Homo sapiens: one gene and its partner. The protein of the gene in region 2 purifies or fractionates together with the protein of the main gene of each other region. This does not show direct contact. Each region holds a gene or a part of one and is shown on either strand. Other genes may lie near its edges.

What was found.
Region 1: the proteins of MATN1 (region 2) and POR purify together in Homo sapiens (affinity purification with mass spectrometry; one large-scale study listed by BioGRID and IntAct). This does not show direct contact.

The regions. Positions count from the first base shown.
Region 1 is NC_000007.14:75,921,412-75,925,223, forward strand, and holds part of POR (NADPH--cytochrome P450 reductase), read left to right. Parts: intron 1-690; exon of another isoform or gene 691-789; intron 790-3,812. UniProt on the Homo sapiens protein: This enzyme is required for electron transfer from NADP to cytochrome P450 in microsomes. It can also provide electron transfer to heme oxygenase and cytochrome B5.
Region 2 is NC_000001.11:30,713,507-30,717,318, forward strand, and holds part of MATN1 (matrilin-1 precursor), read right to left. Parts: intron 3,410-3,812; coding exon 3,284-3,409; intron 2,820-3,283; coding exon 2,403-2,819; intron 1,804-2,402; coding exon 1,651-1,803; intron 822-1,650; coding exon 741-821; intron 126-740; coding exon 76-125; 3' UTR 1-75. UniProt on the Homo sapiens protein: A major component of the extracellular matrix of non-articular cartilage. Binds to type 2 collagens and forms long concatenated protein networks as part of the extracellular matrix.

The DNA of each region.
Region 1 (3,812 bases), on a different chromosome or scaffold from region 2:
GCACCGCGCCCAGCTAATTTTTGTATTTTTAGTAGAGACAGGGTTTCACTGTGTTGGCCAGGCTGGTCTCGAACTCCTGACCTCAGGCGATCTGCCTGCCTCGGCCTCCCAAAGTGCTGGGATTACAGCAGGCGTGAGCCACCACGCCCGGCCCTTTAAATCTCTTTCCACTGCTGTGGTCTTACTGTAGCCCCTTGTCACTTCCTGCTGCGCTGACCCGTAATTGACCCATAATTCTCCCTCTCTTCCCCTCCCTACCACGTTCCAAGATCTGTCCATGGTACCATTGCTGGTTGATCTTGGAACCCTGCTTCGGTCACCCCTCCTTTCTCTTCGCCCAGACTGGAGTGCAGTGGCACGATTTGGCTCACTGCAACCTCCACCTGTCAGGTTCAAGTGATTCTCCTGCCTCAGCCTCCCGAGTAGCTGGCACTACAGGCACGTGCCTCCACACCTAGCTAATTTTTGTATTTCTAGTAGAGACAGGGTTTCACCATGTTGGCCAGGCCAGTCTCGAACTCCTGGCCTTAAGTGGTCCACCCAGCTCAGCCTCCCAAAGTGCTGGGATAATAGGCAGGAGCCACTGTGCCCGGTCACTGTCACTGTCTTATTGCATGTTTTCTTCTTCATCTGCTTTCATAAAGGATAAACAGTGACTTAATAAAAGGTGTCTAATTCTCCCCTCCCTAGTGGCAATACGGTTGGACTAGAAGGTGAATTCAGTTGAGAACAGGGAACCTATCATTTCTGCGAGTGTAAGCTGGGGCATAGAACAATGCCAGGCATAAGGTAGGCACTTGGATGAATGGATGAATGAATAAATATGGCTTCTGTCCCCCAAGTTTACTGCTGAGCTTTCTCCTGCATATTGACTGAGCTCAGATGTCAAAATTGGGTCTGATCTGTAGTTTTTTTTTTTTTTTTTTTTGAGACAGAGCCTGTCACTCTGTCGCCCAGGCTGGAGTGCAGTGGCGCAATCTTGGCTCACTGCAACCTCTGCCTCCTGGGTTCAAGCAATTCTCGTGCCTCAACCTCCTGAGTAGCTGGAATTATAGGTGTGTGCCATCATGCCTGGCTAATTTTTTGTAATTTTAGTACAGATGGGGTTTCACCATGTTGCCCAGCTGGTCTCGAATGCCTGACCTGAAGCAGTCTGCCCGCCTCGGCCTTCCGAAGTGCTGGGATTACAGGCGTGAGCCACTGCGCCTGGCCTGGTCTGTACTTCTGAAGATTATTCCAAAGTACAGTAGGAACTTTTGGTAGGACTTTAGTTTTCCATCCAGGTATAAAATTTTGTGTCAGTGGTGGGGTTGCGCATGTTCAGTAGCTGCAACACTAGAAAGATGGCAAAGCAGGAGCAAAGAAAAATCCCTTTGGCTCCAGAAAATCTCCTGAAAGCAGAAGGCTTATCAAGGCCTCAAAGCCACCCAGTCAAAGTAGGCACTTTTGGCAAAGGAGGAGCAGAGGGAAGGAAAAGAGCTCAGGTTTAAACGACTGGAATCATTCCTACATGATTCCTGGCGGCAGAAACATGACAAGGTGTGTCTCAGACGACTAGAAGTAAAACCTCACACCTTGGAATCGCCAGATAAACATTCCTTGGCCTTTGTTGTACGCGTCGAAAGGATTGATGGTGTGAGTTTACTGGTGCGGAGAGCCATTGCAAGACTTAAACCTAAAAATGCAGCGTATAGTATGTAACCTTATGTGACCTGGGGATTTCCAAATCTGAAGTCTGTCCAGAAACTCATTTTGAAACGTAGACAAGCCAAGGTCAAGAATAAGACCATCCCTCTGACAACACAGTGATTGAGGAGCACCTGGGAAAGCTTGGTGTCTTTTGCTTGGAAGACCTCATTCATGAAATTGCCTTCCCAAGGAAGCATTTCCAGGAGATCTCATGGTTCTTGTCCCCTTTCCACCTCTCAGTGGACTGTCATGCTACCAAAAATAGTGGACTTTCTGAAGGAGATTGGCACACCTCCATCTTCTTGGGGGTGTGTGCATCAATCAGCTCATCCGCCAGCTGAACTAGAGCCAGGTGCCAAACTACAGTAAATTTTTATCAATGAACTGGAAGCTTGTGTTATTTTTGGGGGCGGGGTGGAATTTTTATCAAGTATCTTCAGAGAAGATTATTTCCTGCTTTATCTTCAAAAACTGTAAAGGAAGGGTCAAAGGAAAGACAGTGGCTGGCCGGGCCCGGTGGCTCACGCCTATAATCCTAGCACTTTGGGAGGCTGAGGCGGGCAGATCACCTGAGGTCGGGAGTTCGAAACCAGCCTGACCAACATGGAGAAACCCCGTCTCTACTAAAAATACAAAAATTAGCTGAGCGTGGTGGCACACGCCTGTAATCCCAGCTACTGGGGAGGCTGAGGCAGGAGAATCGCTTGAACCCGGGAGGCGGAGGTTGTGGTGAGCCAAGATCAGACCTTTGTCCTCCAGCCTGGGCAACAAGAGCGAAACTCCATCTCAAAAAAAAAAAAAAAGAAAAGAAAAGACAGTAGCTTACGTTCATGGCGGCACCTCTCATCACAGTCCAGTTCCAAGGAAAAATTCCAGCGTTTTCTACGTTGGCTGCTGCCTTGTCTGAAATCACATTTTGTGGAGAAAGGAGTCTTGCTTTGTTGCATCTTCTATCCTAGGGTTTAATGTTGGTGAATGAGTAACTCTAGCATTTGTACAAGGCTCCCTAAGAGTCCTGCAGCAGTCGACCAAGCCCGGGGACATAATTGAATCCGGAGATTCCTGGGGCCTTGAAAAAGGCTTGAAATATACATAGGAAGAAAGGCACAAAAATAAATGCTCACTTGTCTCTGCAAAAAAAAAGAAAAGAAAAATTGTGTCTCAAGTTCCTTCTGTAGTTGATAATTTATTCAGTAATCATTTTATAATTGAAGAAGAATATTCTGACTCTAAATCTTTCTAGATCAGTTACCTGGATGCTGAAGACATGAATAAATTTGTTTATTTTAAAAATCCTAGGGCCTGGCACAGTGGCTCATGCTTATAATCTTAGCACTGTGGGAGGCCGAGGTGGACGGATCACTAGAGCCCAGGAATTCAAGACCATCCTGGGCCACATGGCAAAACACCATCTCTATTTAAAAATTAGTGTTTTTAAACATCAGTGTTTAAAAATTAGCTGGGTGTGGTGGTGTGTACCTGTCATCCCAACTACTTGGGAGGCTGAGGTGGGAGGATCACCTGAGCCCAGGGAGGTTGAGGCTGCAGTGAGCCATGATCAGACCACTGCACACCAACCTGGGTGATAGAGTGAGACCCCCATCTCAAAATATACAGTAATAAATGAAAAATAGAAAATTCCCCAAATAAATAAATAATAGAAAATTCTAATGAAAATAAAAGGAGTTGAGTGTAACCGTTGAGTGTCTGCGCTGGGTGTTTATGTCTCATGTAACCAACGTAGCACTGTGAGCATGGTCATCCCGGAGACGGACTGTGATAAATCGTGTGCCCAGGATCCCAGAGTGCATAGGTGGCATATCTAGGTTTTGAACCAAGGTCTGTTGGTCTTTTATAGCTCAACTGGGTTGTGAGTTTGTTGAATTTCACTTTCCATGCTTTCCCCAACCAAACCAAAAACCAGAGGGGGAACTGAAAGCTGAGAGCCTAGTAATTGAGAAAAGGACTCTGGGAGGTGATGGTGTCAAAAAGCAGTCCAGGGAAGCTCTTGTGGTTGAGCACACAGCTCTGCCCAGAGCTTCCTAGATGCCAAGGCAAAGAAGGATGGGGTTACATAGCAGTTATTGGAAAAAGGAAGCTGACCAGTTTCTCATTAGTATTTT
Region 2 (3,812 bases):
TCCCTCACTAAAATGGTAAAGCTACGGCGGACACGTGCAGGACGCTTGGAGAGGCCACAGTGGTGACAGGCAGCCTTAGACAACTGTGTTCTCCAGGATGGCCAGCCGCTTACTCACAGCTTCCAGTGGACTCAGAGTTAAGGAGAGGTGCAGGTTGGCCAGAGCAGGGCAGGGATGGCTGTGGCCCTGCACTCAGGCCCCTGCAACACCCCACTACAGCGTGCATTCTCCCCTCTGTCAGAACTTATCCATCCACTGTCCTCAGAATGGTGCTTTCCAAAAAACACAGCCAGTTACTGTGAGCCACGAGTGCCCAGCCCTGCTCAGTTGCAGATTTAGACCTGCTGGGTTCCCCACCTAGTCCTGGCTGAGCCAGGGGAACTGTCTGGGGCCCAGCCCCACCTCTGAGTGGGTACTGGGGTCAGGCACGTCACCATGAGCCTGAGAAATGGGGCATCCATGGGCTCCATGTTCTTCAGAGCATGTCCAGGACTCTGGTGTGTGTCCAGTCCCTAGATCCTGGCTTCTGCCTCATTTTCTTGTTTACCTTCTAGGAGTCTCTGCTTTTGACAGGGTGTGCACCCAAGCTGGCTTCAGCTTATTCTGCCAGAATGCAGCCCATCAGCAGTAAGCAGGCCAAGAGAAGCCTGCCCAACTGACCACACTTGGGCCATGCCCCCGCCTCCCCCAACACTGGCCTGCGCCCCTCCCCAGCCCCAGCCCCCTCTGGGAAGGGATATGTTTCCTGGTCAGGGCCTGCAGCAGCCCCTCCACTTTGGCTTGGAATTTCACCAGGGACTCGCAGGCACACGGGTCTTCCTCTGCAGGGGACAAGGAGGAGGGAAAGAGAAAGGAACTGTTGAGTGGCTGCCCAGGAGGAGGGAGGACAGTCACTGCCCAGGGCCAGGACTCAGGATTCCCGGGGAGGTGAGGGGCTTAAGGGACCTGAGGAGGCAGAAAGATATAGATAGTCCTTGAGACAGCACCCTTAGGAGTGATAGAGGGGTGACCCCTGAACGTCTTCCTGGTCCCTTGGAGCCCTGAGAATGAACTAGGAGAGCATCCCTGTACCTGCTGCATGAAGAACACTAGTAGGGGCCCCTATGTCACCTCAGTGAGTTCACCTCAGCCCTTTGGGTTTGAAGTCATTAATCCCATCTTACAGGTGAAGAATCCAAGAAGTGAAAAAACTTGCCCATGGCCAACAGCGTCAGAGCAAAGACACAGGCCCAGGCACGTCTGGCTCTGAAACCCACACTCCTTACCACTAAGAACCAGCTGGTGAGGTCACCAGAGAGGACCAGAGAGGCAGTAGGGTTCAAATCTTGGCTCTCCCAGCTATTAACAGTTGTTCCACCCCTTTGGCCTTGTTTATCCCATCTATAAAATGGGGTTAATGACATTCTTACCAAATAGGATCGGATGATGTAATATCCGGAGAGCACTGAGAACACTGCCAGCCACGTAACGAGCATTCAACATGTTTGCTGGTAGTAAGAGCTGTAAGCGCCAGCCCACCTTCTGGTTCTGCCAACTCTTGGTGCCACCTCGGCCCCTGCTTTTCCCCACCCACACCCAGTTCCAGGATGGCTCCACCTCCACAGTGCCCCACCTGCAAATCCCATCAATGCCAGCCCTGGCCTCACTCACCCACACAGATCTTCTTCTGCAACTTCTTGCCTATCTGGTTGATGGTCTTGAAGTCAGCCGTGTAGAAGTAGTGCTCTGCCACAGGCTCTGAGGCTATTTCCCTCAGCTCATCCTCCACGGCATTGCCCACACCCACAGCAAACATCTTAAAGCCTGCCAGGAGGAACAGGAGAAGTAAGGCTGGACATGGGGATGGGCAACCATATGGCTGAGCCTCCTGGGGAAGGCTTAGGCAGCCAACACCAGACACCTCCTGCTGGCAGCTGCTGGAATTGCAAGCACAATGCCTGGAACAAGGACAATGAGAAAATCAATATTTACTGAGGTTCTGCTCTGTGTCAGACCCTATAGTGACTTCCTGTACTGGAAGCTTTGTACAGCAAGCTTCATTTAACCCTAATAATCATCCATCTGGTGGTTATTTTTTCCTCATTTAATAGGTTACAAAACAGACTCGGGCTTGTTCCAAAGTAGAGTTGCCTTCCAATAGTTGATGTGTTCTTGGGAATATCCAGCTGGAAAAGTTCCAAGCCTCACTTACAAAAGGACCATCAAAACAAGCCACTTACTTTTCTGGGGCCTCAATTTTGTCATTGGTATAAGAGAGAATTGGACTAACCAATCCTCCTCATTCAAACTCACCTGGGTTTAGGGCACTAATCAGACGACACCAAGATAAACTACAGTTGGGCTATACCCGTGTGTACCCCTGGCCATCAGTGGTGTCCAGGGTCCAGGCAGGCAACACCTACCGAGGTCTTTGGCCTTCTTGGCAGCATCATTAATGTAGTCCTGGCTCCGGCCATCAGTGAAGACAATGCCCACCTTCTGGGCCCCGGGCCTAGCCCCACTGGACACAGTGAAGGAATTGTCAATGAGGTACTTGAGAGCAGCCCCAGTCATTGTGCCCTTCTCCATGTAGGACATATTCCGCACAGCCGCCTTGATGTCCTTCTTGGTGTGGAAGCGACCCAGGGGGAACTCCTGGCGCACAGAGCTTGAGTACTGCACCAGCCCCACCTGGGCCAGCTTGTCTGACACGTCCAGCGTATCCACGATCTGACTGATGAACTTCTTCACCAGCTCAAAGTTCTCTGGCCTCACACTCTTGGATCCGTCAATGAGGAAGACCAGGTCAGTGGCCGAGCTGCCACCACCACCACTGCAGACTGTGGAGGACAGGAAGGCAACGGGCTGAAGCTGAAGGACATAGTCAACCATCCTGCTCCCCGGCTGGACACCCACCACACACCAAGCTCTGTGCTGAGGATCATTACATTGTGCCCTCAGAACTGCCTCTATAAAGCCAAGGTGACTGGTCCCACTGTACAGTATTGGAAACTGAAACTCCAATAGCTGTGAGATCACACAGCTCAGAAGTGGTAGCACCAGGATTTGATTTTGAGACTATGTGAGTCCTTCTACCACACTAAACCCACCGCCCATTGTGTTGAAAACAGGGACAGAAGTCAGGTGAGAACTTCTGCAGATACCAAACTCTAAAAGGCATCTGTCTGCTTTGAAGATTGGTTCAGAGGTATGGTGCAGGGAGGCTTGAATGGGTTTCCTGGGGAGGCCCCATCACCTCCCCTCCACACCCTCTCCAGGGCGAGCCTGTGTCCACCCCACTGACCATTGCAGGTCTTGCCGTCGCTGTTCAGAGTGAAGCCCTCGTGGCAGGCGCAGGTGTAGGAACCGGGGGAGCTGATGCACACCTGCTCACAGTCATGGTCCCCTGTGGCGCACAGGTCTGACACCACTGCGGGGACAATAAGTAGCTCAGATCTCACAGTCATAGTGCCTTGGGCACTACAGACAGGTTGTCCCTCCCTGACTGTGGATACCAGGCCCCATCCAGACTCAGGGAAACTAAGATCTCCAACATACTGGGGCCCAGGCCCCCGACTCTCAGCCCACGTCTGGAATCATTGCACCAGTGCCTAGATCCCTGAAGAAGGTTATAATGCTGATGATAAGAATGAAAAGTCTCACTAAAAAGGTAAAGGCCAAGGGTTAGGGCCTTTAGTCTGTTTAGTTCACTGCTGTATCAAGACACCCAAGTGTCTAGAACAGCATACAATGAACACAGCACCTATCTGTCAAATACCATATAATGAGGGTTACATTTTGCATTATCTCACTGGATCCTCTCAATAACGTGC